Linked DNA regions of Homo sapiens: region 1 is linked to region 2. Evidence: fine-mapped expression QTL. A gene starts in region 2. The other region holds a variant in brackets. All regions are shown on one strand. Distances are from middle to middle.

Region 1 (16,089 bases), 33 kb after region 2:
AACAAATTACCACAAACTTAGTGGCTTAAACACAAATTTATCATCTAATAATTCTGTAGGTCAGAAGTCCAACCTGAGCCTCAGTTGGCTAAAATCAAGGTGTAATCATGGCTACATTCCTTTCTGGAGGCTCCAGGGGAGCATTTAGTTGCTTGCCTTTTCCAGCTTCTGGAAGCCACCTACGTTCCTTGACTCATGACCGCCTTCCTCCATAGTCAGCAACAGTAGGTCAAGTCCTTCTCATATTTCAGATCTTTCCTCCTTCTCCTTTCATTTCATGTCTCAAATCTAGCCAGGAACAATTCTCTGCTTTGAAGTACTCACATGATTGGATTGGGCTCACCTGGTTAATCCACAATAATCTCCCCATCTCAAGGGGCCATTCTTAATCACATTTGCAAAGTCTCTTTTGTCATGTGAAGAAAGCCATCCACAGGTTCCAGGGATTAGGACATGCACATCCTGGGGGATGCGGGAGATTATTCTACCTACCACAGGAATTGTAGTTGCTATTACAGAACCAAAAGCATCATGGGAGATAGAGGGAGGAGACAGGTTTGGAGAAGGCGGCAGCTACCAGATAATGAAGACCCTTGTACACCATGTTGAGGAGCCTAGACTTAATTCTGAAGGTGATGAGGTCCTTTGAAGGGTCTAAAGCAAGGTGAGAATTGTGTTTCGATGGAGCATTCTGCTGGCAGCATGCAGGACAGACTCAAGGAAGACAAGTAAGGAAGTCCTCAGTCAGTTTACTAATTTATAGTGTACTGGCAGTCTGGTTACTACAGGTTGCTGAGTGATGAAAGGGGAGGGAATGAAGGGACAGAGCAGAGACTACTCTTTTGAGAAGAATTGAAATGAAAAGTCAAGGAGAGAAAGAAGGTAATTAAATGGGAGCACTATGCCCAAGATGGATTTTGTCTTGTTTGTTTTTGAAATGAGAGAGATGAGCAAATTTATAGGTTGAAGATAATGATAATGATTATAATAAAATAGCTAACACTGATTAAGACTTTATTTGTACACTAAGATATTATACTACATATGTACATTGATTCATTTTTTCTCTCTTACAACTGAAGAGACTGAGGCAAGGACTAGTTAAATATCACTTCAAGTTACATAGTTTTAAAAAATAGCAAAGCTGGCCAGGCATGGTGGCTCACACCTGTAATCCCATCACTTTTGGGGAGACCAAAGCAGAAGGATTGCCTGAGACCAGAAGTTCGAGACCAGCCTGGGCAACGTAGTGAGATTCCATCTCTACAAAACATTTTAAGAAAACCTAGCGGGGCATGGTGATGCACACCTGTAGTCCTAACTACTTGGGAGGCTGAGGCAGGAGTATCGCTTGAGCCACAGGAGTTCGAGGCTGCAGTGAGTTATGATTACACCACTGTACCCCAGCCTGGGCAACAGAGCAAGACTTTGCCTTAAAAAAAAAAACAAAAACTAGCAGAGCTATAATTCAAAACAAAATCCACTTGACTTGTGATATACTTGACTACTAGACTATGCTAGCCAGTAAAAAAGAAGAAGTAGGGCCGTGCGTGGTGGCTCACACCTGTAATCCCAACACTTTGGGAGGCCGAGGTGGGTGGATCACCTGATGTCAGAAGTTCAAGACCAGCCTGGTCAGCATGGTGAAACCCCGTCTCTACTAAATATACAAAAATTAGCTTGGCATGGTGGCGGGCACCTGTAATCCCAGCTACTCAGGAGGCTGAGGCAGGAGAATCGCTTGAACCCTGGAGGCGGAGGTTGCAGTGAGCTGAGATTGCGCCATTGCACTCCAGCCTAGGCAACAAGAGCGAAACTTCATCTCAAAAAAAAAAAGGAAGGAGTAGAGATTAAAAGGAGAGAAGCTATTACTGATGACTCAATGCCTAGGAAAAGGTAGGAGAGCATATATTTGAAAGCACAGGTGGAGGAGGAAAGGAATATGTGGCCTAATATTTTCTGTGAATGAGTTAGGTGTGTGAGAAAGCTAAAGCTTGAGATAACCTATGGGAAAAGTCAAAGGAAGCAGTTTTGAGAGCTCAATGCATTTGGAAACTACTTGAAATGGCCGTATTGTTTATTTCCAGCAGTGAGAGGGGAGCAGGCGAAAGGGAGATGAGAGTGGTAACCACTTATGCTTTCACATTTATATTACCTTCCAAAGCATGCCAGCCATTCCCCAGAATGAAGCCAACCCACTAGGTAATGTCAAAGAAGTCACAAGAACAGGGTAGGCAAATAGCTGTGACCACCTTGGACAAATCCAGGTTCCCTGCACACACCCACGCAAACACCTAATTCTTTCCTCATGCTGACCCCCTTCCAGATAAACTCACTTGGTGAAAGCTCTTACTGAGCTATTACTTCCTTGAAATGTCCTAGAATTTCCATTTTTGAAATTTTTTCCATATTGTTACATGTCATCCATGAATCATGAACTCTTTTTAAACTTTATCTCTAGAGTAAATGTTTCCTTCCAGTCACATAATTGCCAGCAGGGCAATTCAATAACACAGAATCTATTGTGAAATCATATTTATGAACTTATGACATTATATCTAACCTTTCATTGTGTATGCTCTTTGACAATTTAAGATTGAACTTTGTGCTATATTTCTTAGATTCTGCATTTTTGAAACATGACAAACTTGAGTTCTGCACCCACTTGTATCATGCAATGTGAAAATGCAACCATTTTCCATGTATGATATTGTTTATGAGTGAAGCATTTTTATCTGCTAGAACTTAGTGTGAAGTTTCTAACCAGGGATCGACCTGCTTAAAGAGACAGTTTATAATTTCACAGAAAAGTCACTTTTTGATGAATGTTGACGTCTAGATTATGATTTTTTATGTTTAAGGCAGCTAAAATCTATTCTCCACAGTTTAGTTTTTTTAAGAGAGATTTGTTTTTTTAGAGGAGACTGAAATAACAAAGTTTATCAACTAACATTCTGAACATCTATGACTTTACCTTTTCCAATTTATGTAGAAACTGCAAGAACATATTCAGGTGTTTTACCCTGTCAGCTTTCTTTGCAGGTTTGTAAGGCACCAAAGGCCAGCAGAATGATAGAGACAGAAAACAGGAAAGGAAACCTCTGTAGTTTTCCTGCTTTTCTGTGGCCATAAAACTAGCCAACATGTATCCTTGGCCCACCTACAATTAGGCTTCAAACCATTGCTGTTTTTTTGTTTGTTTTCTGAGACGGAGTCTTGCTCTGTCGCCTAGGCTGGAGTGCAGTGGTGCAATCTCGGCTCACTGCAAGCTCCACTTCCTGGGTTCATGCCATTCTCCTGCCTCAGCCTCCCGAGTAGCTGGGACTACAGGTGCCTGCCACCACGCCCGGCTAATTTTTTGTATTTTTAATAGAGACGGGGTTTCACCGTGTTAGCCAGCATGGTCTCGATCTCCTGACCTCGTGATCCGCCTGCCTCAGCCTCCCAAAGTGCTGGCATTACAGGCGTGAGCCACGGCGCCTGGCCACCATTGCTGTTAAAGATGGGACTCAACTTAGGGGAAATACAGTTGAGCATTCAGTAAGTCAGAGCTAGAATCTGCCTATATCTGCCACTAGGACCTGATCACAGTACTCTCTAAATTCTAATTCTCTCTAAATTCTGCTCTAATTCCCTCTTGTTTACAGTGATAGTCTGCAAGCACATTTTTAATAGCCTTTTGTTATTAAAAGTAATACATATTGGAAAAATTAGAAAACACAGGCAAGCAAAAATAAAAACATAAAAGCAGCACATTCTTACTACCCAGAGCACATCATTTTAACATCTTAGTTCTTATCCTTCTGGATCTCTATATATTCACATACTCATATGTAAAATAAGATCATCTTCTACGGACAGTTCTTGCTTTCTGGCTTAACAAGATGTCTCAGCTTCACTTTGTGTCTTCCCTGTACCAGACCTGAAATCAACCATTTCTAACACTTGCTGCTTCCTTTTAGTGGGAAATAAGATTAAAGACCAAAATGTATTAGGAGTGCTCATTGTTGTTAATGTGGCATTATTTCTAGACCATTATATATTTTTTAACCTTTAAGTTTAGTGATACAAGTGCAGGTTTGTTACGTAGGTAAACTTGTATCATGGAGGTTTGTTGTACAGATTATTTCATCACCCAGGTATTAAGCCTAGTACCTATTAGTAGTTTTTCCTGATCCTCTCCCTTCTCCTCCCTTCCACCCTCTGACAGGCCCCAGTGTGTGTTGTTTCCCTCTATGTGTCCATGTGTTTTCATCATTTAGCTCCCACTTATAAGTGAGAACATGTGGTATTTGGTTCTCTGCCCCTGTGTTAGTTTGCTAAGGATAATGGCCTCCAGCTCCATCCATGACCCTGCAAAGGACATGATCTCATTCTTTTTTATGGCTGCATAGTGTTCCATGGTGTATGTGTACCCCATTTTCTTCATCCAGTCTATCACTGATGGACATTTAGGTTGATTCCATGTCTTTGCTATTGTGAATAGTGCTGCAATGAACATACACATGGATGTGTCTTTATAATAGAATAATTTATATTCCTTTGGGTATATACCCATTAATGGGATTGCTGGATCAAATGGTATTTCTGTCTTTAGATCTTTGAGGAATCACCACTGTCTTCTACAATGGCTGAAATACTTACACTCCCACCAACAGTGTATAAGCATTCCTTTTTCTCCACAACCTCAGCAACATCTGTTATTTTTTGACTTTTTAAAAATTGTTATCTTTAGTTCTGGGGTACATATGCAGGATGTGCAGGTTTATTACATAGGTAAATGTGTGCCATGGTGGTTTGCTGCACCTGTCAATCAGCCCATCACCTAGGTATTAAGCCCAGCATGCATTAGCTATTTTTCCTAATGCTCTCCCTCCCCCAACTAACAGTAGCCATTCTGACTGGTGTGAGATGGTGTCTCATTGTGGTTTTGATTTGCATTTCTCTAATGGTCAGTGATGTTGAGCTTTTTTCCATAAAATTGTTGGCATTGGCCACATGTATGTCTTCTTTTGAAAAGTGTTCATTTCCTTTGCTCACTTTTTAGTAGGGTTATTTGGCTTTTTCTTGTAAATTTACATTCCTTATAGATGCTGGATATTAGACCTTTGTCGGATGCATAGTTTGCAAAAATTTTTCCCATCCTGTAGGTCATTTAATCTGTTGATAGTTTCTTTTGCTGTGCAGAAACTCTTTAGTTTAATTAGATCCCGTTTGCCAATTTTTGTTTTTGTTGCAGTTGCTTTTGGTGTCCTCATCAGTAAATCTTTGCCTGTGTCTATGTCCTGAATGGTATTGCCTAGGCTGTCTTCCAGGGTTATTATAATTTTAGGTTTTACATTTAAGTCTTTAATCCATCTTGAGTTAATTTTTATGTACGGTGTAAGGAAAGGGTCCAGTTTCAATCTTCTGCATATGGCTATCCGGTTACTCCAGCACCATTTACTGAATAGGGAGTCTTTTCCCCATTGCTTGTTTTTGTCAGGTTTGTCAAAGATCAGATAGTTGTAGGTGTGCGGTCTAGGCTATTTAATGGACAAAGCTAGGGAAAAAAATTTTAAGCATGAGTTAGTTCATACTTGTATTTGCAATTCAATTTTAACTTTGTAGTGTTTTCACTAATTTGATTTTACAATTGTATCTCTTTTACACAGAAAATTGATTTCTAATGTAATTGACATTAAAGTTTTCTTGAGTTTACCATAAAAATCACTCTTTTAAAGTGTTTTTAATGGCTTTTAGTATATATACAGAGTTGTATAATCATGGCATAATTGTAGAATATTTCCGTGACACCAAAGAAACCTTGTGCCCATTAAAAGTCATTCCCCTCACACTAGTTGTCTTATGTGTAGGAAACCACTAAATCAACTTTCTGTCTCCAAAGATCTGCCCACTCTGGATATTTCATATAAATGAATAACATAATATGTGGCCTTTGGTGTCTTGCCTCTTTCACTTAGTGTATAGATTTCAAAGTTCATCCATGTTACAGCAGGTATCAAGACTCCATTCCTTTTTATGGCTGAATATTCCATCCTATGGATATATATTTTTTGTTTGTCCATTTGTCAATTGATGGACTTGTAGGTTGTTTCTCTTTTTTTTTACTATTATGAATGACGCTGCCATATTTGTGTCCAAGCTTTTATATGAGCATATATCTTCAATTTAATTGAGTACACTCTTTGCTTTTTCACGTGGATTTGAGTTATTGTTCCTTCTTTCCAGCATGAAGAGCTTACTTTATTATTTCTTATAAGGCAGGTGTGCCAGCAATGATTTTCTCTATTTTGGTTTATATTGGAATGTCTTTATTTCCTCTTCCTATTTGAAAGATATTTTTGATGGATATAGGATTCTTGGTTGACAGGTATGTGTGTGTGTGTGTGTGTGTGTGTCTGTTTTTTCTTCACTTTAAATGTGTCAGCCACTGCCTTCTCCCTTCCATTATTTTAGATGAGAAGTTACTCTTATGTGATTCCCTTGTACATAATAAGCTGGGGTTTTTTGTTTTGCTTTTTGCTGCTTTGGAGATTTATCTTTATCTTTGGCTTTCAGCAGTTTGTGATGTATCTGAATGTGAATATCTTTTTGTTGATTCTACTTGGGATTCTTTGAGCTCCTGAATATGTTTTCATCCCATTTGCAAAGTTTTTTATTTCTTTAAGTTTGTTTTCTGTTCTCTTTTTCTCTAGTTCTCCCATTACTTGTAATTTAGTGGGATTAATGTCCTCCATTTCTGTGACAATCTGTTTGTGTGTCTTCATGCTTTTTCTCTCTGTTATTCAAATTATATACAGTAGTCCCCCCCACCATCTGCAATTTTATGTTCTGCGATTTCAGGTATCCGTGGTCAACTATGGTCCAAAAATATTAAGTGGAAAATTCCAGAAGTAAACAATCCATAAGTTTAAATTGCATGCTATTCTGAGTAGTGTGATAAAATCTCTCATGTTCCCACACCATCCCACCTGAAATGTGAATCATCCCTTTGTCCAGCATGTACACACTGTGTATGCTACCCACCCATTAATCACTTAGTGGCTGTCTTAGTTACCAGGTCCACTGTTGCAGGATTGCTGTGCTTGTCTTCAAGTTACCCTTATTTTACTTAATAATGGCCCCAAAGCACAAGATCAGTGATAGTGGCAATTTGGATACGCCAAAGAGAAGCCATAAAGTGCTTTCTTTAAGTGAAAAAGTGAAAGTTCTCAATTTAATAAGGAAAGAAAAAAAAGTTTGCTGAGATTGCTAAGATCTACAGTAAGAACAAATCTTATCTGTGAATTGTGAAGAAGGGAAAATAAATTTGTGCCTAGCATAAATGGGTTTGGTACTATCCATTCAGGGATCCTCCTGGGGTCTTGGAGCACATCCCCCATGAATAAGTGGGCACTACTGCCTTCTCTACTGATCTACAAGTTTACCGATTGATTCTTCTGCTTGCTCAAATCTACTGTTGAACTCCTCCAGTGAATTTTTCAATTATGATTTTCTACTTAGGAATTTCAGTGTAGCTCCTTAAAAATTTCTTCTTACTGACAATCTCTATTTGATGCATTGTCATCATACTCTCCTTTAATTTTTAAAACATGGTTTCTTTCATTCTTCAAACATATTTATAATATTTTCTTTGAAGTCTTTGTTAAATCTAACGTCTGCATCCTCCCTAAGAAAGTTTCTGCCTGTTGTTGTTGTTTTTTTTTTTTTTCCTCTGCAGAAAGGAACTGGGGATCTCACTATATGGGATGGGGGTCATATTTTCTTGTTTCCTTGCAAGTCTCATAATTTTTCATTGTAAATTGGACATTTTAGGTCATATATTGTAACAACTCTGGATTCTGATCCTTCCCAGGCTTATTGATGCTGTTTTGTTCTTGTTATTGTTGTTCATCTATTTATTTGTTTAGTGACTTGGCTGGACTAATACTGTGAAGTATATTTTTCCCCCGCAGTAGGCAGCCTCTAATGTCTCTGCTTAGATAGTTGTTCCTTGTTTTTTTGTTTTTAAACTTGAATTCCTGGGTGTTGCCCTCGGTCAGTCACTGATTGGTCAGAGGTCACGCTTAAGCTCACTGAGCCAGTAAGGTTTTCATCCTTTTCCACTGGGTCTGTGTGTGGCTTGGGAACAACTTTTGGAGTTCGAGGAGTTTATATATCTGCCACTTTTAACTCAGGGACTGACTTGGAAGTACCCTGTCTGGTTGATCTTGGGTGGTCACAGCCGTGGGCTTTTCCACAGTCTCCTGGACCACCAGTATCAAGTGTGAATTTTTTTACTGTCCCTCGTCCCAATTTCTCTGTTAAACTTCTGCTGGTCTGCATCTATTAGCATCACAAAACTATTAGCCTACTCTGTTAGCCCTTATGATATCTGTTTTTCTATGTCTGTTATTTTTTACATTGCTCTGGGACATGAATATCCTACACTCTGTTCCAAATAAAGTCAAAGGCAGGGCTGCAGAGCTGCAAGTCCTCACAGCTTGCTCAGCCCCCAACCTGGTTAGAGCCTCTGTGTTACTGAGCAGGAGCTGGGGATATGGGGAACTCTGATCTGTTTTGTTTGCCCTGCCCAGGGTCTCCCTGTAGAGCAGGACATTAGGGAGTGAGTACTGGCACTACCGAACAGCTACAGCTGCCCATGGGGAAGAAGGGGAGGATGAGTGCTGAGTGCTACCGTTTCTTAGATCTTCACCTGGGATAGATCTTGATCCTCAGCAATAGGAAAGTGGGGGACATGGGCACCTCACTGGCTGCAAGCCTGCCCAGAATAGTTCTGAAACCTGAAGCTAGAGGGATGGATGCAGCCCATGGTTCAAATGCCACAGTTTCTTGCTGAGCTTCAGTAGATTTTATTGAATAAGTGTTTCTCAATTTATTATATAACCTTAGGTCAATTTCCAGAGACTTTAAATGGTTGTCTCAGATTATTTTGACCAGTTAAATCAATGCTTCTTTTGTTTCTTTTGTTTGTTTTTTTTTTTTTAGAC[G/A]GAATCTCACTCTGTCACCCAGGCTGGAGTGCAGTGGCGTGATCTCAGCTCACTGCAACCTCTGCCTCTGGGGTTCAAGCGATTCTCCTGCCTCAGCCTCCCAAGTAGCTGGGACTACAGGCATGCGCCACCATGCCCAGCTAATTTTTTTTGTATTTTTAGTAGAGATGGGGTTTCATCATGTTGGCCAGGCTGGTCTCAAACTCCCGACCTCAGGTGATCTGCCCGCCTCAGCCTCCTAAAGTGCTGGGATTACAGACGTGAGCCACAGTGCCCGGCCAAATCAATGTTTCTTTGAAGGAGAGAATTCATCAAACTCTTCATCCCACCATTTTGGAAGTCCCACCCACCCCCTGGATTGGTCTGTAATTTATAATTTTACTTATTTGCTTTAAATCAGCAGCCCCCCAACCTTTTTGACACCAGGGACCAGTTTCGTGGAAGACAATTTTTCCGTGGGGCAGAAGGAATGCTTTTGGGATGAAACTGTTCCACCGTAGATCATCAGGCATTACATTCTCCTAAGGAGTGCACAACCTAGATCCCTCACATGCGCATTTCACAATGGGGTTTATGCTCCTATGAGAATCTAATGCCACTGCTGATCTGTCAGGAGGCAGAGCTCAGGTGGTAATGCTCACTTGCCCGCTGCTCATCTCCTGCTGTGCAGCCCAGTTCCTAAAGCCCAGGGGCTGGGAACTCCTGCTTTAACTTGCAATATTAAAACATTGCAAAATGCCAAATACAATCATTTACTTAAAATAAAACTGCAGAATGTAGTTTCAGTATTCTATCATTTTTTTTTTTTGTATCTATCTCTTCAAACTTTGGCCTACCTTAAGGCAGAGCCTATGTTATATTCATTTCTGTTTTTTTTATGCAGGGAGCATTAAGTAGGAAGTAATGGTCTTTTTAGCTTAAGAACAAAACTAAATACTATCTGTTTTTTTGAATATTTGAGTCCACAATTACCTTACCCAGTAGTTTACCTTCAGAAAATGGCTGGTTAGCTAGTTACTGGGCTAGCCCCTAGTTGGTCTTCATTGTACCCATATACATACAAACACACACTCACATATTTACCTTTTCATAATCTTTTCCCAGCAACTTTTCTCCTTTAAGTGTGTCCATTTGTAAAGGCTTTTTTTTTTTTTAACTTATTAGATTTTAAAGCCATAGTAACTATGGTCTGTATACTTTGGGAAACCAATGAAAATGTTTGAAACATGAAATAAATTATATATTGGCTAAAAAATACTGCAGAACCAAAATAAATATCTGTAAAATGTAACATTAAGTCGACTTACCAACAGCAACTCAACAGTTAAAAAGTTACAAATAGACCGGGCGCAGTGGCTCACGCCTGTAATCCTAACACTTTGGGAGGCCAAGGCGGGTGGGTTGCCTGAGCTCAGGAGTTCAAGACCAGCCTGGGCAACATGGTGAAACCCCATCTCTACTAAAATACAAAAAATTAGCCAGGTGTGGTGGCATGCGCCTGTAGTCCCACCTAATTGGGAGGCTGAGGCAGGAGAATTGCTAGAACCCGGGAGGTAGAGGTTGCAGTGAGCCAAGATAGCGCCACTGTACTCCAGCCTGGGCAACAGAGCGACAATCCATCTCTGGGGAAAAAAAAAGTTATAAATAAATTATATTTAAGGTGGCATATGAATAGATTTTAAGATATTTGATACAGGTAGAGTATCCTCAAAGGTCTTAAAGATCTTGTTCACCATATTTCACCCATAGATTAAAAAAATAATGAGGGTTGTAGGGATTGGAAGCCAGGCCTGGCACCAGATAGTATGGCCCTCATGAAAGATCCCCAACACTTTCACAAAGAAGAAATGGTTTCATAATGCATTTAACATTTTTCTACCCTGATGCGGGTAGAAAGACCACGAAACCCCACTGTATAGACTCAGACTTTTGCATTTTGATAGCTGCATTCATTCATTTGCTAACAAATATAAGCAATTTACCTAGCACCTGGGTATACTGTGCCTGGGATTATACTGTGCCTGGGATTCTAGTAATACTTTGGCTGAGGATACAGTGAAGGACAAGGTAATCTGGGCCCTTTCCTCATAGGTCTTATATACTAGCTGGGGAAGTATAAAAATGTTTTTAATAATGTAAGTAAATTTATTCTTGCAGATTGTAATGTTATGAAGCTCAGCGTTCTTTAGAGGTAGGAGCAAGTACACGTGGTTATCTTCTTTAGATTTGGAAGTCAGAAAAGGCCTTCTTATGAATTCATATTTAAGCTGAGACATGAAGAAAGACTTGGAGTGAAGTAGGGGGAGTAAGGAATGACTAATCAGAGGCCCTGGAGAAAAAGAGAGACTCATACATCTGTGGAAATCAAAGGCAGCCAGTGTGGCAGAAGCAATGAAGCACTGGGAGCTTAAAGAGTGTGTTGTGAAAGGAGGCTGTGGGGGTGTTGGGGTCAGGCAGGACCTCAAGGTCTTGAATACCAAGGGTCTTGAATTTTATTCCACTTGAAGTGTTTTGATCACCCAGCATAACATAACCTTGTCTGATTTTTAAAAAGATCTCCCTGGCAGAAGGGCAGTTAGGAGGTTTAGTAGTGGTCCAATTGAGAGATGATGAGACTTGGGCCAGTGGGATCAGGGAAGGAAGAGGAAAGTGGATGAATTCAATAAGCACTTTAGAGGTAAGGGCCAGGCTTTCACGCCTGTAATTTCAGCACTTTGCGAGGCCAAGGTGGGTGGATCACCTGAGGTCAGGAGTTCAAGACCAGCCTGGCTAACATGGTGAACCCCCATCCCTACTAAAAATACAAAAAATTAGCTGGGCGTGGTGGTGTGCCCCTGTGGTCCCAGCTACTTGGGAGGCTGAGGTACGAGAATCACTTAAACCCGGGAGGCAGAGGTTGCAGTGAGCCGAGATTGCACCACTGCATTCCAGCCTGGACGACAGAGTGAGACTCCGTCATAAATAAATAAATAAATAAATAAATGTAAGAACAACAGGGCTGAAAAACACAAATATTCTCTTTAGTTCTATTTTGATACTGTCACTAGCAGTTGAAGTCAAACCTAATACAAATGCTCATTGCATTATGATTTTAGGATGGTAAAACTTTAGTGTTTGACGATGTTTTATGATGTCTGTTAACTAATTATCACCTAACTCAGAAAACAGATCAAAAGTCATTTTAACTAGAAATAAAATGGGAATAAATAGTACCTCTTTATGCATTGGAAAACTTTCCATGCTTCTTTGACAGCAGAGGCAAAGGCATCACGGTACAGGGGAGTGATCGTGGGTTTTTGGAGCTGAACCACTTGGGTTTAAATTCTCACCCTGCCTTTAACTAGCTCTATAACCTTGAACAAATCATTTTTCTAAACTTTAGTTTCAAATGGAGATGATAATCTTTATTTCACAACATTTTTAAGAATGAAATAACTGATGGGCAACACATACTCTAATAGCTGTTCAATAACCATTCATTTTCTCAACTTACAAATAGCCAACCTATAATCTACACTATTCAGATTGTTTGTTAAACCTTGAAATTTTTTTTAGAGTTAGAAGAATTTAACTCAATCCTCTCAATTTCCAGACAAAGAAATAACAGCCTAGGGAGTTGAAAAGACTTGCCTGAGGACACAGAATGTACTGGGGGCAGAATAGAACTAGCACTATTTTCTCCAAACACCTGGCATGTTTCCAGTACACTACATTGCCTCGTGTATCCTCTAATGTTTAATGGAGGATTTTATAAGATAACCATATATCCATTCCATCCCCTGCTTAAGCCTAAAGAGAATGGTGATTAACAGTGACCTTATGTTCTCTTTGCTAGTTACATGCTATGGGAAAACTTCCTGGAACCAGAATGGCAGCGTTAAAAGCCAAGTATACCTTGCTGCATGACGCCGTGATGAGGTATGCAATTTACCAATATGGAGACATGATTAATCACCTTTAAATTTCTTACTGGTGATGAGACCTGTCTTCATTTGCATTCCCCCATAAGCAGACCCTGAGGCAAGGATTTGCGTTCAGGGAGTTTGAGAAGTGGTACGAGAAAGCATCGTGAGAGAGTGGGGAAGTGCGACTGGGAAGGAAGGAATCTAGCCTTGATCAGGCCGTGTACATCTGCGAGTTTATATGATGGGCTACTGGGGCTCAGCCTCACAGAGGAGCCTCTGAGTGGCTCACCTCAGCACTCTCCCACTGAAGAGTGAGGAAACTGGAATATTTGCCCACCAGTTTCCACCACTCATTTATTACAAATTACTTCCAGGGAGATTAGCTCTTGGCACTTCCAGCTTGCGCTTTGACAAACCAAGCAAACTTTGATGGCCAGAGACAGCTCTCAGGCGGAGGGACACAGGTGCTGCTGATACATATGGTAACTGTCCACTAAAGCTGCAGGTGGGCAAAAGGATTCTGGTGGGACACTGACAGTCTCTGCATAGGACACACCTGCAGGACTCTTCTCCCGTGTCTGTTCATCACTCAGAGGTGTAGATTCTCCAACAACCCCAGCTTGAGTCTGCTGAGACCCTGTCTGTACTTCTCACCTCCTCCCCATATCACAAGCTACTTACACCTTGCAAGTCCCAATCACCAACAGGTCAGAAGAACAGGCTATCATAGAAGAGTCCAGCAAGCCTGCCTGAGCACTGGCTATTAGCCACTGGGAATTAAGAGGGCAGGGGAGTGAAGAAAGAGGGAAAACCCTAATGTGCTGTGATTCTTTACCACTCCCAAGCCTCTTTCTTTCCTTCCCCCACCTCTTGTCTCAGGGCCTTGCATTGTATCTTCATCAAAAGCCAAGGAGCAACAGCAACAGATAGAAACTCCATGCTGCCACTCCCCAGCCATCCTCTCCCCGCAATTCCCAATCACTTCCCCTCCTTCTTATCTTGCCCAGAGATATTTGGCTACTTTGAGGGTAAAAGCATGAGGGAAGAGTGAACAACTTGGAAAAGAGCAGAGCTGCATTCCTATGCAAACTTCAAGTGCACCCAGGTTCCTCACACCCCTCCAAAGCCCCCAGCCTTGGTTCCTCATCCTCAAGCCCAAGCCAAGTCCTCACCCCCACACCTAATGGAGGTTCCATTCCCCCGTAGCTGGTCACGCCTGCCAGTGTGTTCTCAGAGTTCTCAAGGCTCAGGAATTTTGAGACTTTAAGTGGAAAGTCTGGAGTAATCTTTTACAACATACTTCACACTGCTTAACTGAGAGGAAATGCCATGCAGTTCTCTGGGCATCCCTCCAATCCTCTTTGCAGATACAAGGAATATCAGTGTTTCCTGCCCTCTGGATAGCTCTTCTTTTTTTTTAGACAGAGTCTCCCTCTGTCACCCAGGCTGGAGTGCAGTGGCCTGGTCTTGGCTCACTGCAAGCTCCGCCTCCCAGGTTCACGCCATTCTCCTGCCTCAGACTCTTGAGTAGCTAGGACTACAGGAGCCCGCCACCACACCCAGCTAATTTTTTTGTATTTTTAGTAGAGATGGGGTTTCACTGGGTTAGCCAGGATGGTCTCAATCTCCTGACCTTGTGATCCTCACGCCTCGGCCTCCCAAAGTGCTGGGATTACAGGCGTGAGCCACCGTGCCCAGCCTGGATAGCTCTTATCTAGAGCCCAGTGGAGATTTGCAGGGTGCTTTGACTTAACTTCCTCCTCCCCTGGCCCACAACTCAGTTCCCTGGCCCCTAATGACAAGTAGCAATGCAGGACCTCAGCTATGGCACTATTTCTTCCTCTTCCAGGTTGTGTTGCAAAACAGTTAACTTCCCTTCTGCTACCCACATTTTACATCTTGACCACTTAGTTCCCTCTAATGCCATTGCAAATACTCACCATTCTCTCCTACTCCCAATGCCTGATGGGTGGGAAAAACATGAAGTAGACTCTTCATTCGTGCTGCTAGGACTACAGCTGGGCAGATATAGCCTGGAAATATTGAACTGAAACTGAATGAGTCTTCCATAGAAACCATGTTATAAGAGTTGTTAAAGTCTCTTCTACTGGTATCATGTTTTAAATACATGTGGGTAAGTTGCGATTTGTGTTCTGGCTGGAACCCTACCACCCTGTCCTTTCTATGCAAAAACAGGCACTGTAGCCTGGTCCAACAGCTTACAATTTCAATAGCTGAAGCCTGACCTATTAAGGAGACCAGATAACTTTAGATTTACAAAGTTTATTAGCATACATGAAAATTGAATTATAGGAGAATAATTCCAGCTTTCATTAATGAAAATTATTTGAGGTATCACTGTAGCTATTGTTGTTGCTATTTGGTACCTAACATCATGCCTGGAACGTGTTATGTCCCAGTAAATGTTTTGCTAGATGCTATTGAGCAAATGACATTATAAAACCTGGGAAAATGGATGTATCTGTACTGAATTGAGAATATCACAAAGGTGAGGCAGACACAAGGTAACTTCAGTTGAGATTGGCTTGATCAAGTCATTGGGCGTCTCTGCAAATGAGCTGGAACTTGAAGATTTATCTTGGTGAGGACAGTTGGTGGGGAGCATACATCAAAAGAGAGCTCTGGCTCTAAAACAGGAAGTGGTGAGGGCTTACTTCAAATAGGAGAGGTAGCTAATATAAGGGTTTCTGGGAAAGAGGAATCATATCTACTGGTAAGGTTGGAGCCGATGCTTGCTGATGCTAGCTTGCAGCATAGAGGAGTTCTATAAGATACTGGAGATTCCGCCATGTCCTTTTTCTACATCCTCTGACAGATGTTTAGTCCTTTTCCCTACATAGGGCCAAGGTCATAGAATATAACTGGGGTTGTAGGAATCTCCCTCTACCGTGACCTTCAAGTCCATCCAGCTCTAACCAGTGTCCAATTTAGAATCAGAAATCTGTAAATTTATTTATATTCATAATTGCGTATGGGAATTTCTCTTCCTAGTTTCCTAATAAAGTGCCATTAGAAAAGTTTCTGTTTTTTCATAGTTCACTAAGTGGGGAGAGATTTTCCTACAATTATGTTACAAGAATTCAAGAGAGCTAGGGTTGTTTGGGGAGTTCAAGGGAAAACCTCCTCTTTCCGTATCATTTATCCCCTTCTAGTAAGTCATAATCATTCTT
Region 2 (16,089 bases):
CGGGACACTCCATGTTTTCAAAGTATACCCATTTCCTCTCATTTCCACCTCTTTCCAGTCAATCAACAAAGGAGACCTGGCAAGCTTATGACTTAGTAGACATTGTGATCTGGCAATGCACAGAATGAAATTAAAGTTGGGAATTGGCCACCTCGGCTTGTTACCTCTGGGGAGAGGGACAGGATTGAAATTGAAGGTGATTTGTGAAGGAGTCTTTATTTTAATCTGTAACTTTTTAAAAAATTAAAGGATTCATGGATTTTATATTAAAATTAATTTCAAAATTATTCCTGCTTTTTTCTTCAGGAATTCAGTAGGGTGGAACAATCACTATTGGGCAGGTACAGCAATATGCCTCTGTGTGACATGTCCCCACAGGCATGTTCCTAGGACCCCTTCTAAAAGTTTGCCACTGTTACATTCCCAGTCCTATAGTATACAGTAAGTCCTCACTTAACATCATGGATAGGTTCTTGGAAACAGCAACTTTAAGCAAAAACAGCATATTGTATGCCATAGGAACTTCATTCTTGTTTATGTCAATTAGCTTATGGTAAAATTGGTTTTGTTACATGGTATGTTGTTTTAACGTCGCTGTTTCTGAGAACCTATCAACAGCGTTAAGTGAGGACTTACTGTATTTGATCCTGTCTTGCCATATTCTCCCTGGCTGTAATTGCTTCTCACCTATGTTCACAGTCTCTCATATCCGCAGATTTGACCCTACCCACTACTTTCCCAATCATAACTGTGGCCTCTTTAGAGTACAACTCTTTCTCTGTGGCAACATATTATTAATCACTTTGAATAACAATACTCATGTCTCAAATTTCCTTTACTCCTATTCACACAGATTGATTTCAGGATAGAACTTAGACAATATTGAATAATATATAATAAGGAATATGTAGGATGGCATAAGATCTAGGAGAGGTGCCAGGACCCCACCTACTGTCATCAGAGAACTCTGCCTATAAGAGATAACTATTTAGGGCCTGGCGCAGTGGCTCACGCCTGTAATCCCAGCACTTTGGGAGGCCAAGGTGGGCGGATCACGAGGTCAGGAGATCGAGACCATCCTGGCTAACACGGTGAAACCCAGTCTCTACTAAAAATACAAAACAAATTAGCTGGGTGTGGTGGCGGGCACCTGTAGTCCTAGCTACTTGGGAGGCTGAGGCAGGAGAATGGTGTGAACCCAGGAGGCGGAGCGTGCAGTGAGCCGAGATGGTGCTACTGCACTCCAGCCTGGGCGACAGAGCAAGACTCCATCTCAAAAAATAAAAAATAATAATAACTACTTAGGATGATGATGATTTTTTTTCTCTGTCACCCAGGCTGGAGTGCAGTGGCGCCATCTCTGCTCACTGCAACCTCTGTCTGCCAGGTTCAAGCAATTCTCCTGCCTCAGCTTCCTGAGTAGCTGGGACTACAGGTGTGAGCCACCACACCTGGCTAATTTTTGTATTTTTAGTAGAGATGGGGTTTCACCATGTTGGCCAGGCTGGTCTCACGTGATCCGCCCACCTCGGCCTCCCAAAGTGCTGGGATTACAGGCATGTGCCACCAACACCCAGCTGGGAATGATGATTTTTAAATATATATGTTCTAGGTGCTTTATATATGTGATTTAATCCTCTCAATAACTCTATCAGGCAGATTCTATTACTATTCCTATTTTATAATTGAAGGAACCAAAGAACATTAAGTGACTTGCCCAGGATCATACAGCTTGCAAATAGTGGAGCTGAAATTCAAACCAGGAAGGCCAGCTCCTGAGTTCCTGCTGTTAATCATGGGTGATAAGACAAAACCCAGTGAGGAAAGAGGATGGCATTCTATCTAGACCAAGGAAACAGTATACTAAAGGCAATGAAAACATTAGAAAGCGTAGTTTGTTTGTGTACAACAAGGCGTTTAGTATGGCAGAAGTATAAGTAGTGGTAAAAATCATTTCATGAAGGGACTTATTTGCCAGATTTTATCTTGTAGAAAATAAGGCATTGTTGGCCGGGCACGGTGGCTAATGCCTGTAATCCCAGCACTTTGCGAGGCCTAGGCGGGTGGATCACGAGGTCAGGAGATCGAGACCATCCTGGCTAACATGGTGAAACCCCGTCTCTACTAAAAATACAAAAATTAGCTGGGCGAGGTGGCAGGCGTCTGTAGTCCCAGCTACTCAGGAGGCTGAGAGAGGAGAATGGCGTGAACCCAGGAGGCAGAGGTTGCAGTGAGCCGAGATCTCGCCATTGCACTCCAGCCTGGGCGACAGAGTGAGACTCCGTCTCTAAAAAAAATAAAATAAAATAATAAAAAAAAAGAAAAGAAGGCGTTGTTGAAAGTTTTTTAAGCAGGACAATAACATGATCAGAATTGTACTTTTGAACAATCCCCCTGGTAGGGATGAAAGTTGGACTGGAATAGACTGAAACCAGAGGTACAGACTATTCAGATGCGTTTGTGTTGTCCTAAGGAGATGAAGAGGGCTAACCAGAGCAGCAACACTAATAACGGAAAAAGAGGAGAGGAAGTTGAATGCCACAAAATGAAACTGAAACTTTTGTATTTCAAATGTTTCAACAGTATTCTAGAGGGAAGTAAGATAATGGTGTTCCTCTATTTGCCTCTGACTTCTTGTTAATGAAATAGTACTCATTAAAGTCTTCAGAGTCACAGATATTGTATAGCTGAGGTAAGCATTTTACAACTTTTCAGACACAAGTAAGTACATAAATATTATTTTACAACCAACAATATTTAATATTTCCACATTGAAGAATAGATGTGATAATTAAATCTTTTATAAGGTTTTAAAAAGACATGAAACATAAACCTAATTATACATAAAAGAAAAGAATTTTAAACAAGAGCTTATTGTGATGACATTACTCATAACTTTTACCTTTAAAACCTTTTCTTGGGTAGCTATTCAAAAGTAAAGACCACAAGTTTTGTTGCCCAGATTTCTTATGTTTTGTATATTTAAGCTCTTTATTTATTGAACAGATGTGTCATTAATTCATTTGGAGCATTACTATTATCAGTAAAATTTGATTTTTTTTTCCCCTCAGTCATAGGTAAATCAGCTCCACCTGGAATTTCTAAGGACCCAGTTTTAGTCAATATTTTCAAGTAATCATGACCTCAGAAATAGTCTTAATTAAGATAACAAATATTAGCCATCAAAATGGAACCAAGACAAGATTCTAATGTTTGTAAACAGTCAATCCATATTTATGAATATTAGCATATATTGGTGAATAGTTAAGGCAAAAGGTTCTAGCAGATGTAATCTATTTCCATCAACATGTTAAATGTTATAAAAGTCTAGAATTATTGGTAACATGAAATGATTCCAAAATGGAATTTCTGTGTTACAGAATTTACTAGAAAAGTGCTGTGAAAGTATAATGAAAAATAAAGTGATCCCTTGAAATAATGTGGATAGAACAAGCTTTTGAATATTTACATGGATTAATGAATTATTTGCCAAATTCTCCTGAAGTTATACCTAGTTCCCATTAAATTAATGGACACCGTGTATATGAGCATATACCTTTCTTTAGAACTATGTTTTGTGATAAGTCCATTTTTACTCACAGGAATTTACTTAAACTTGTACATATATTAATTATATATACTAAATGACAATGACCTTATCTGAAACAAATACATTGTATAATATCAAAACGTTTTTAGTCTTTTTTAAAAAGTAAAAAGTAAAAAACAACGTCAGTTACATCATTTACATTTGGTATCCCACCTAATAGAGACACAGCTTTTGAAATCTACAATATTTTACATTTTGGTCATCATTTAATGCTATTTGCATTTCTCTTTAACATTTTAATAGTATTTGTGATATATCATGTTTAACTGAAAGCTTTGGGTTATATATTTTAAAGGAATATCTTACTTTTTGACTAAATAGTTCTGTAAGGGCCTAATATTTGAAAAATTAGCTTGTTACCTGAAGCAACTATCCTCCTTAATCATTTTAAAATAATGGGTAAAGATGCATCTTTGTAAATATATTTTGAAAACTTGGTTAGTGTATTAGAAACAGACACCAGAAATTAAAAAAATTATTTCTAGGACTGGCATACACTACAGTGAATTACTTCAAATGTTACTCTAGAGCATTTTTAAAAATACGCAGAATACTGCTGTTCTCTCTGAGATGATCCCTTTTTACGATGATGAAATTAAACACATTTAAAAAGTCTTTTAAATATTATATATAGCATTCCAGAATTGATGAATTATAAAAATTACAGATACTTCTGTTTGGGTAAAAATCTATCTTTTAGTTTCTGATAGTAAAATAAGCAATCTACCAGCCAGGGTTGAAATATATAGTATTTTAACTACTGTTCTATATATTTCAAAATTCATGTTTTCTATCTGTCCTAGAGAAACTTAGCCTTCTATGAAGTGAATCACTTAATGATATTATTGCTTTGGAGATAAAATTGGCCTCAGAGTATGATAGCCTGTAAGTAAATGCTTCATTACCCACATATCCCTACCCACCCCCCCCAAAAAAACCTACCAGTAGTCTAGTACAGTAGTGAGCAATCTTAAATTAAAAGCTATTGTTCACACAGAGCAGAGGAAGATAATTTTCATGTTAAAGCAGTTTTCAACATCAAACATCTAAGGAGTTATAAACTATAAATGAATTACCTTTAAACCCTGGTCTTCACAGTTACATTGCTTTCTGAATGCTTTTTGGGGTGACATTATGCTACCACATTTTTAAACGGTTTAAATGACAAGTATTTTATATTTCATGAATGATAAATGAACAAGTTTAATTATATAGATATTAGTTCCCTTAGTCTGGGAACCAAAATGCTGTAGGGTTGTTCTGTTGCAAAGTAAATGATATAGATTAAGTTTGTCTCAGAATGAAGATTACCCAAATAATTATAGCCTGAAAAGAGTGATATACCTTCAGATGTGCTTAAATCATGGCCCAAATACAGATTACTTTGTGTAGAATCCAGCCTACTGAATAAATTTTATTATTTTTTTGTTTGAGACAGAGTTTTCTCTGTCACCCATGCTGGAGTGCAGTGGCTCAGTCTTGGCTCACTGCAACCTCTTCCTCTCAGGTTCAAGCGATTCTCCTGCCTCAGCCTCCCAAGTAGCTAGGATTACAGGCATGTACCACCATGCCCGGCTAATTTTTGTATTTTTAATAGAGACAGCGTTTCACATGTTTGGCCAGGCTGGTCTCAAACTCCTGACCTCAAGTGATCTGCCTGCCTTGACATTCCAAAGTGCTGGGATTACAGGCGTGAGCTACCACACCCAGCCAACAATTATTTTTTAAATACAGCAAGTAATACAAGCAATAGAAAAAGTTTCAATAGAAATTAAAAGAATTGTAAATCTAATGTATAATTCTCAATATTGCTAATTGCTTGCAAGTGTTCATTGGATAACAGCATAACAACAAAGGACTCCTTTAAAATGCATTGTTTTTCAGCTTTATTTCAAATGCTGTGTAGCATAAGAACCTAGCCGTCAGACATCATTTTTTAGCTATGAAAAATATGAAACAAGGCATATTCTAAAGTGCTGAAGGAATTAATTGCCCTATTAGATAACGAATACCTGGAGGAATGAACAGAGTGATTTATGGCTTAAAGTGCTTGGGTCTGATCATCATCTTAGCCTCTTTGAAGGAGGACTTGTAGCCACCAGGGTGTGCCTCACTTACACCAGGCCAGGTACCCCAGAAAATCCCATTACGGACACCTCTGTATTTTTGGTGATAATATTTGCCATTTAAGTTTGCAGAAAGACATGCATCAAACCACCAGCCTGAACTGTAGTACAGCCCACAGTTCCCAGAAGGATATCGATCATTGTCTTTATCTGGAGTGGTGAAAAACTTCAGATCGTGGTTGTAATGTTTGTTGAAACGTAATGCATCTCCAGCTGTGCCATTATAGTTACCAACGTGTAAACGATATTTGAGAAACTCATTAGCCACATAAAACTGATCATACAAGGCATATAGTTCGACACCATTAAAGTCTTCAAGATCTATTCTCAGAATCATTTCCTTACTCTTGGTCAGAAGATGAATTTTATCGTTCCCCAGCCAAAATTCCCTTCTGAGGTTTCCAAAGCCTGCTTTGTAGTCTTGCCATGTTCTGGTGAAGTTGGTGCTCCCATCGAGACGTGCCTGCAGCACTGTCCAGCCTCCCCCCATGGTCTCCATGTCACAGTAAACTTCAAAGCTACTATTTTTGGGATCAGGTGTAACTCTGTAGGTCTCACTGCTTCTTTTGCCTATTGCGTAGTAGTCAGAGCAATCTTTATATATTAGATGTTGAACTGAAGGGGAAATAAAAGGAAGGCATTGGATCTTGTTAATAGAAACCATGCATCTGAAGAATTCTTTATATGTACAAAAGCAGTTTGATAATTGAATCAATGGCAGTAATGAAACTTTACTAAACTTACTTGAACCTGTTTAGCAAATGCTTAAGGCCTCACAAGAAGAACCTAATGTTATAAAGCAGAAAGGACCTCTAATATACTCTTGGTTGGTAGTAATAATGACAGCATCAACAGCAAACGACAATAAGAAAATAATAAAAGTACAGTTTTAATAATTTAGTATTATGTAGTGAGGCCTACCTATACGTTCTAGGCATGCTGCCAGACTGGGTAACATTTTCACACTGAATCTGAACATTGACCTTATGATGTAGGCGTTACTGCCAGTCTGCATGTGAGGATATTTAGGCATAAAGATCAGTGGCTTGCCCACCTTCACCTGAGCTTTAAGTGGCAGAGCCAGGACACTAACTCAGATCTGGCTGGCAGCAAAGCTTTGTTCTCGTAATCATTGCATCCCTTGGTCCTAAAAATCAGATGATTCTAACTCTCCTAGAACTGTATTCCTTGCATACAGAGGAAGCACAGGCTTCTATTTTCTTTCACCTAAAGGGGCTGATAGCCTCTACTGTCAGAAGGTTTTATAGCATATATTCCAAATGATGTGTTAAAATCCTAATGCATAGGATTGATCATAAATTCATATTCATTTCACTTGACAACTATATAAAGAAGCTCAAGTGAAAAAGAAGTATCTTTTTCAATGACACACCAATATTCTTATTCTGTATTTATTATCTAGGAAAGTATTTAGCCACTATTTCACATGTTGGGTTTCTAGAAAGAAACAACAGGTGACTATATTGAGGATAAGCATAATAATCAGTTAACAAAGTTCTGTATGAATCAGACAGATATTTACTCCCAGATAGTTTTTATTAAAATGTGTGACAAATAAGGTAAGTTTAATATGAGATACCCTAAGGCATAAAAATCTATTCCTGTATATTTAGAGCTCAGAATATTCAGTTATTTCACCCAAAATGTTTAGGAGAAAAATAGACAATAGTCTTCATATCATGACAAGTTGCCATGCAGCATCTAATCTAATGTATACCCACTGATGTCACCTAAGCGGTGAACCTTGGATTCGCAGTGTGCCAGGTACATTCAGATGCAGGCTGCCAGGAGTATTACCAATAGAGGTCCTTGAAAATATGACCCTTCCCTCCTTCACTGGCAGATGCCCTGGGGATGGAGCATGCCTGAGATACTGTCTCTAAATGAAAGTGATCTCCGCCCTGTCCTTTCAACCTCACGTTCATGGTAAGTAGAGGTCCAAATGCGGAGATGGCTTTCCAAAGTATGAGACAGTCAGCAACAGTGGTCCCAGTGACTCAGGTGAAAAGCCAAGGTTTGGAGAGTCAATACCACTGTTAGTTCGTGGGTGGAGTAGGCGATTAAGTCTGTGGAATTTCACATGTATTTATTAAAGTTAATTCAAGTAATTTGGATGGTGAGGATGGGTTCTACTTCTATCTGCTTGAATTCTAACTTCAGGTAAAAGAGAAAGAAATATGAATACCTTCCCTTAGTGGCATGCTAAAACTCTCCCCTTAAAATATTTTTTGTGCCACTAGGTCTCAAAGCAAAAATTTGTGCACACATATGAAACTGCTTTTATTCCATCTGTAAACTCTCCCATTTTCTCCAGATATTTGGGATTAAGAACTAGATTACTTGCTAAAATCTTTCAAAGACCTCTTTAGCCATGAGAAGCGGCAGTCAGTCAATCACAAGAAAAACTGATTTCCAACAAACAAGGCACAATTGTGAACATCGCCTTATCTTTATTGTTTTCAAACACCTCATTGAAGAGACAAGTTAAATGCACTAAAACATCAAGAAATTCTCTCTACTTCTGCTTGCAAGTAGGTCTGGCATTAACAAATAAGATCTTAAAATTGAAAGTGACTTCCAGTGGATACAGAACTAACTATGATTTTTGTAATTAGGTCATATTTATGTGGTCATATTTGAGAAGATATTTATTTTTTCCTGTGCACCTTGATAAATAAAAGACTTAATCTGTCATCTATTTAACTTACTGACTCAGGTTAATGTTTATAGATACTCTCTAGCTGTATAACATTTATGAACATATGATAAGAAAACATTATTATACATACCTGGACGTGACTGTATTTGTTCTTGGCTGGGACACTTTGAACATTTGCCATCCAAACTATTGACAACAAATGTTAGATTTGCCACTTTGCTGTCAACATAATTTTCTATGTTGTTCATATTTACAAGATTCAGCTTCTCCAGGCGACCATGAAGTACATTGATCTCCTCTTTGGCATTCTTTAGCTCAGAGGACAGCTTGTTAACCTCACTCTCTAATTCTCTAACTCTGTTATCACCAACCTCTCCCGGGGCTCCTGTACTGGGTAACAACAGTCCGTTTCTGCCTGGGTCTCCGTTGTCATCAGCCTGCAGCTTGCAGTCTTGGCAAGATTTCTTTAGACTATTTACGATTTCCTTGAGGTTTTGGACTTCTTTGAACACCTCCTCGATCCTGCTGAATTGCTTCGGGAGCTGAATAGTCAAGGGGGGCAGGCTTACCTGGTAGGGGCACTCCCCTGCCTCTTCGCATTTCCCTCTGCTTTCTAGTCTCACTGGGCAGACATCCTTTGCTCTTTCATCTTTAATTTCCTCTGTTTCATTGTTTGCCACAACCAAAAAACCGTAAGTGGCAAGAACAGCTGAGCTCAGCCAGTACCAGTTAGCCAGCTTCATCTTTACAGTGCTGCTCACCCCAGCAGGGAGTGCGCAGGGCTGGAGCTGCTTTAATAGCGGCAGCTGCCTGAGTCAGGCTTTCTGTGTTCCCAGGAAAGGGTGGGAGCGTTTGCATCACAAGTTTTAGAAACGCACAGGAAGAGGAGATAGCCCTCATCAAACGCAGTTTGCCAAAAACTGTAACTTACTCTCAATAGAAATAATATGCATTGAAATTATTATAGTCAAATGTACACAGCCAACAAGATTCACTTTCATAATGTATTTTATGAAGTATAAGAAAAGTCTTGCATTTCTAAAGTAATTTGGTATACTTACGCTTGAAGTAAATAATTATACGTAACTTCACTGGAAAAACAGTTTTTAAAGATAAAAAGTAAGAGCTAGTTATCCAAACTGTCTATAGAACAGAAACGTTACTAAAATGAAAATGGTCCTTTTTCCTTCTTAGAATGGGGCATTGGGGAGCCTGTATTTTCTTCATGTTGGACTTTCAGGTGAAATCTTAAGCACTTTTAGAAGTTTCTAAGTGTAACAAAGTACAGCTTTCTGACTATTGCAGTTGACTTTTGCTTCATCTACTTGAAAAAGAGAAGAAAACTAGTGGAGAAAAAAGTGCTACTTTCTATTCCTTTGTCCGTAGCATAGTGTATATTAATGTCTAAATGTCTAAGACCCATTTAAAAGGACATAATTGTCTTTCATCAAAACCAGTAGCTGCCTCCTTTGCCCTTCGACATTTTGGTAATTGTACTGTCATCTTCCACAGCTGCTCAAATGTGAATCTTTGAGCTATGCCAGTGTCTGTCCTGAACTTCTCTTGCCTACAGCATCTTTGCCCTTTCTTTCTGCAGGTAGCCCTGGCAGGCGGGCCTCTTGCTTTCTGTCTCCACGCTGGTTCTTCTACCTGCTCTCTGGGCCACTTGGTATATCAGCTTGTTCAAAACATGTAGCATTAATGATAATAGTTTTCTAACTTTCTCTTCAGAGGCTGAAGGCAGGAAAGAGGAACAGCTTCAGTTAGAGAAACCACCTCCTTTTAATTTGTTTTGCATATTGACATCTCATAAGATTTCTTGTTTAAAAAGGGTTTTTTTGCTTTAAAAATAATTTCAAAATGACTGACATGGGCAAAAATCTAAATGTTTTATTGTATTACTTAAAACACTCTGTAGCCTATCTCATATTTATGTCTTTAACCTGATTTCCTATGACTTTTCTGTATATCCCCTTAATTTTAGCCAAATCCTATTCACATTCTCAAAATGTTGGCAGACTCTTTACTCTTCCATGACTGTATTTATTCTCGCATACTCAGGAGACCTGGCTTCCAACCCTAGATCTACCTCTGATCATGTAAACAGATCATCAGCTTTAATGAGCCTTTGTTCCTGTAGCTGTAGCGGAGGAATTTAGCTATTTCTTCCCTCATACAGGAATGATAGTCATGCAAACTTGGAGCACTTGGCTGGGCGTGGTGGCTCACGCCTGTAATCCCAACACATTGGGAGGCCGAGGCATGTGGATCACCTGAGATCAGGAGTTTGAGACCAACCTGGCCAACATGGTGAAACCCCATCTCTACTAAAAATACAAAAAAAAAAAAAAAAATTAGCCAGGTATGGTGGCGTGTGCCTGTAATCCCAGCTACTCGGGAGGCTGAGGCAGGAGAATCACTTGAACCCAGGAGGTGGAGGTTGCAGTGAGCCTAGATCGTACCACTGCACTCCAGCCTGGGCAATAAGAGTGAAACTCCATCCCCCAGCCCCACCCCTCACAAAAAAAGAAAAAAAAAACTTAGAGCACTTAAGAAAAAAAAAAATGCAGTGTATAAATGTAACATTCTTCCCAAATAAATTTGTCAAACATGTTCTACACACCTTATGACTTTTTTTCTTCCATCTTCATATAGCTCTTTCAAAAATTGTTTTTCTCTTCATTCCATTCAATATATCCAATTTTAGACAAAAACTTTTTAGCTAAAAATATCTATTTAATCCCCTAACTCCTAACCTCATTTCTTCTCACCTATTTTCAAGCTGTGACACTTCCCTGTTGGGAGGTAAGAAATAAATGAAACAATAGATAATTTTAAAAAGGAGACATGATGACAACATAGATAAAAAAAAAAACCATTTTGTAAAGTAGAAATATATAGGAATGATATTTAGTTCCTAGTCCTTAAGGATATTGTGAAATGTCCTTGACTGACTAGAGTATAAATCCCTGCATTTAGTTAGTAAAGTATTTATTAAGGATCTTCTGTATACTCAGCACTATGCTAGAGCATATATAAGATGCGTGCCACAGGCACTTTCATTCATTTATTCCTCATACATATATTGATATACTATATATTTATTCATCATAAATTGACTCTGCACCCTCTGCATGCAAAACCGCTATTCTAGGCACTTGGGCCACACTGGTGAACAAATCAGACAAAAATCCCTTTTTCCTTCTTAGAAAGGGGCATTAAAGACCTGGTATTTTCTTCACGTTGGACTTTGAAATGAAATCTTAAGTACTTTTTAAAGTTTCTAAACCTAACAGAAGTACAGCTTTTGGACTCTTGCAGTGGGCTTTTGGTTCATCTGTTTGAATCAGAAATGTGCGTGTCAAGCACTGCTGCTAATTTTTGGCTGGTCACACCCCAGTTAACCAAGGGCCAATGGCACAGTTTCCCCTAAAAAGCTTGGATGTGCTTTGAGAACTGGCTTCTGTCCCTTCAGAATGCATAAAAAATTCCCTGACATAAGGGTAGAGAACTCCTCTGTTGACCAGTTTCATTGACACTGACAGGTGACCTGCTAGGTTCTCGGTTTAGAAAGTCATTTGGCCACTGACTGGAAGGCAGATGCTAAGTGACTACTGCATGAAAAGAGGCTCAACTCCCCTAATGAGTGTATAACTCATGGAGGGCAGAGAGTGTTGTACCGCCTCTACGGTTCCTCCCTGCACTTGCAGATGAGCAAAGAAAGGGCTCAAAGCAATAAATGACTTGTCTGGTCATTTTACAGTTTTCAGTTTCTGTTTTAGAGTTTTTAAGAGACAGCTGGAATTTGAACCTGTATCTGATTCAAAGTTCATATCTTTTCTCTTTGCCACATTGCCACGTAGGAGGAAAGATAACATGGGGAGGGTATGTGAGAACTATGTGGAGAGCCTGTGCTTAAAGCAATGCTTAGATCAATGGAGAGCCACTAAAGGTTTTTGAGCAAGGAAAATAAAATACTTGCCCCCCCCCCCCCCAGGACTATTTTAGGAATGAATCTTCTGCTGCAAATCAGTGGGAAATGGCATTTTAGGTGAGAGCTAGTAGTGTGGTAGCAGGCACTAGATAAGAGGTGAACCAGTGTGGAGGCAGGAGGGGTAGGAAAGGAGATGGAGGCATTATTACCAAGGCATGATAGAAGCCATGGGATCTGATAAGTGGTGAGAACTGGAAAGAGAGGGACAACTCTGAAATTTGCCTCTGATTGCAGTTAAATGATAGCATGCTAATGACAGAGGTAGCAGTAGGTTGGGGAGAGTGTAGTAGTATTTCTGTTTTCAGTACACTGGGTTTTAAGCATTGACAAGCCACCAAATGCAAATATCAAGCAAAGAGTGGTGGCACATCTAGGTATGAATATTGACACAGAATAGATGTGGATGTTAATTTGAAATCACGGGAATCAAAAAGATGGTCAAAGAAATAGGATGAGAACCAGGAGAGTACAGGAGCGTCATGAATACCAGGAAAAGGGAGGGTTTCAAGCAGGACTAGGCCATCAGAAAATCGAAACCTGAAGAGCTGACTTGTCCTTCACTACTAGGAGTTCCCACCTCATGACTTGACCTTCTGCCTCTTCTCTCTTGCTGAAAGCCCTTCTGGATTCTCTCATGCTGAGTCTACCCTGACTCCTAGTATCGGCTGCTTATTCCTCATGGCGGTGTCAGAATCTTCCTTACTACCCTGAATCTGTCCTTGACCCAGCACTGACACATTACACTCACTTACAGACTTGTTTTTAGATTTAAGCAAATTATTTAACACCAATACATGGTGGGATTTTAAAGTAGCAAAATTTATTTCTATAAGCCGCATATGAAATTTTACTTTCATTAGTCTATATTCACATGTTCAGACTTCCTTTTTGCTTACACAAAGTATATTTAAGAGAAGATCTGCATTTTCTATAACTGGATCAGATTCCTAAAGTAAATTTTTGTTTCCCCTAATACAGTTTTTTTTTTCAAGGAAACCCTTTGTGTTTCTATTTGTACTAAAAGAAGAAAGTAAATTTAATGATAGTCGTATTTATAGTATTGAGAGCCTTTCACTGATATTAAGCTTATTAACATTTGTAGTTTCTGATTTATTAAACTCAGGAACCTTTAATTGTTCTTTAAAGAATATGTGCTTTTCTGATAAGAAAATTAAAACATTCACTTTTTAAACTACTTAATTTGAAATATCGACAGTAAATATTTATTTTAATATTCCTTAGAGGTCTTAGTCCTTGTTCATTATAAATTTCATGAAAAGAACTTAAAAAAAATGATTTCCACAACCCACAGAACAAGAATTGCCTGACTTTTGGTTAAAGCTAGAATAATAGTTGGTAGGTTCTGTGGTATGACTTGCAGGTACTTCATTCTGGCATAGATGAGAGATTCAGACTAGAAGTCTTCCAATATGGACCTACAATGAAAGATCTATTATGGGAATCCTTAAGATTTCTGGATCAACTGAAGTATAGGGCAGAAATATACAGATATTCACTATTAATGAAACTACAGAACATAGTTATCCAATATGCTAATGGCACAGGTCTTAAGTGGGAGTATCCAGGGCTTCTCAGATTGAAACTTTATGGAACTGGAATATTCCACAAGAGTCTCGGAAAGTTCATCAGTCAATACCTATCAACAAAATCAATTCTTATGTACTCCACACCAAGCCAGGGATCATGAAGGATCCAAAAGGTTAATGGATATGACATCTAATTTACTGTCATTTCCCTAAATTTCCAGAGACTTAGGAAGTTTCATATAGCCAGCCAGGTGCGGTAGCTCACACCTGTAATCCTAGCACTTTGGGAAACTGAAGTGGGAGGACCACTTGAGGCCAGAAATTCAAGACCAGCTTGGGCAACATAGTGAGACCCTGTCTCTACAAAAAATTTAAAAATTAGATGGGCATGCTGGCATGCGCCTACAGTCCCAGCTGCTCAGGAGGCTAAGGAGAAAGATCGCTTGAGCCCAGGAATTTTTACTTCTTGTATTTGAGATTGATCTTAAGCTTCTTCTTATAATCCCAAAACAAAACAAATAATAAAATCAAAGTAAAGAAATTAGGAGAATCAAATTGTGGCTTTCTATATCTTGCCTTCATTTCTCATATTCATGGTAGTTGTTTCCTATAAAGTCATTGCGAATACTGAATCAGCAAATACTGAACCATTGCTCCTAAGATTAGGTTTCTAAGAGCCTCTGGTCACATCATTTTTGTTAACCAATCAATATATAACCTTATTTTAAGTGTGTTTCTGTTTAAAGACACCCTATTTAATATATATTATTTATTCATTAATGCAGAACTCATGGCCAGCAGAACTATAATTCAAACCTGAAAGAAGTTTATCTAATATATGTGTTTTCTCCGTAAGACACATCACAGCCATCTGGAGCTTAAGAACTTGGGCATGCTGGCTCAGGCCTGTAATCCCAACATTTTGGAAGGCTGAGGTGGGTGAATCACTTGAGCTCAGGAGTTTGAGACCTGTCTGAGCAACATGGTGAAACCCCATCTCTACCAAAAATACAAAAAATTAGCCAAGCATGATGGTGCACACCTGTGGTCCCAGCTACTCGGCAGGCTGAAGCAGGAAGATCACTTGAGCCCAGGAGGCAGAGGTTGCGTGAGCTAAGATCATGCCACTGCACTCCAGCCTGGGCAATACAGTCAGACCCTGTCCCAAAAACAGACAAACACAACAACAACAAAAACCCTCTAGGTAGCACTTCAACACTATGCTCAGGGGCCATTTTATTTTATTATTTCTTAAAATGTCTTTTCTTTCAGTCACATTCTCCAGATGAGTCAGAGGCCATTTTAAACAGCGAAATCACCAAGAAAAAGCACAAGAATGTGAAAAACATGGCACTAATTAAATAGACTGCAAAGTGGATACCAGTTTACAGTATGAGATCTAAAAGAAGGCAGAAAGTTGCCTTCTTTGACTTCAGCTGGGTATATATGTATTTGGCAAATCAACATATTTACCACGCTACGCATGTCCATAGATGATCCACAGGTCCCACAAGTATTAATTTTGGGGTTACAAATAAATTTTAGAGAGTAGGCAAATCACAAAGACAAGATCTATGAATAATGAGGATTGCCCATATATTGTTACAAAATCCAGGGCTTTAAATTCTTGAAACTGCCTATGTATTTATTCTAATATGTATAATTTGATTTTACCTGCTTATCACTTGTGTTTTTGGGGGGTTTTGTTTATCTGTCTTTCTTTGGCATTTTAAAATAATATATAGGCAGGCACAGTAGCTCACACCTGTAATTCCAACACTTTGGGAGGCCAAGGCAGGCAGATCACTTGAGGTCAGGAGTTCAACCAGCCCGGCCAATGTGGTGAAATCCCATCTCTACTAAAAATACAAAAATTAGCCAGGTGTGGTGGTGTGTGTCTGTAATGCATATAATGGTGTGTGCCTCAGCTACATGGGAGGCTGAGGCAGGAAAATCGCTTGAACCCAAGAGGTGGGGGTTGCAGTGAGCTGAGATTGCACCACTGCACTCCAGCTTGGGTGACAAAGCGAAACTCTGTCTCCAAAAAAGAAACATACATATATATATATATATATATATATACACACACACACACACACATACATATACACACATGAATTTATATAATATAT

Evidence for each region. PIP is the estimated chance that this variant, and not a neighbour inherited with it, causes the effect.
Region 1: its variant is fine-mapped to the expression of FGL2 in blood mononuclear cells (TOPMed, PIP above 0.99). The same link has a PIP of 0.9 or more in macrophages.

The regions. Positions count from the first base shown.
Region 1 is chr7:77,224,119-77,240,207 of GRCh38, forward strand. It overlaps CCDC146 (coiled-coil domain containing 146), which reads left to right. Exons shown (of 19, transcript NM_020879.3): 3 at 12,829-12,911. All of the region lies in intron 1 of CCDC146-AS1 (CCDC146 antisense RNA 1), which reads right to left. Among named protein-coding and RNA genes, the nearest start is that of CCDC146-AS1, 17 kb to the right of the region's middle. The variant G/A (reference allele first, on the strand shown) is at 8,994.
Region 2 is chr7:77,190,635-77,206,723 of GRCh38, forward strand. FGL2 (fibrinogen like 2) reads right to left here and starts at 9,185. Exons shown (of 2, transcript NM_006682.3): 1 at 8,547-9,185; 2 at 2,735-6,351. The coding sequence starts at 9,159. The coding sequence ends at 5,645. The region is part of intron 2 of CCDC146 (coiled-coil domain containing 146); the gene reads left to right. RefSeq lists a silencer at 8,776-8,885 and an enhancer at 12,275-12,324.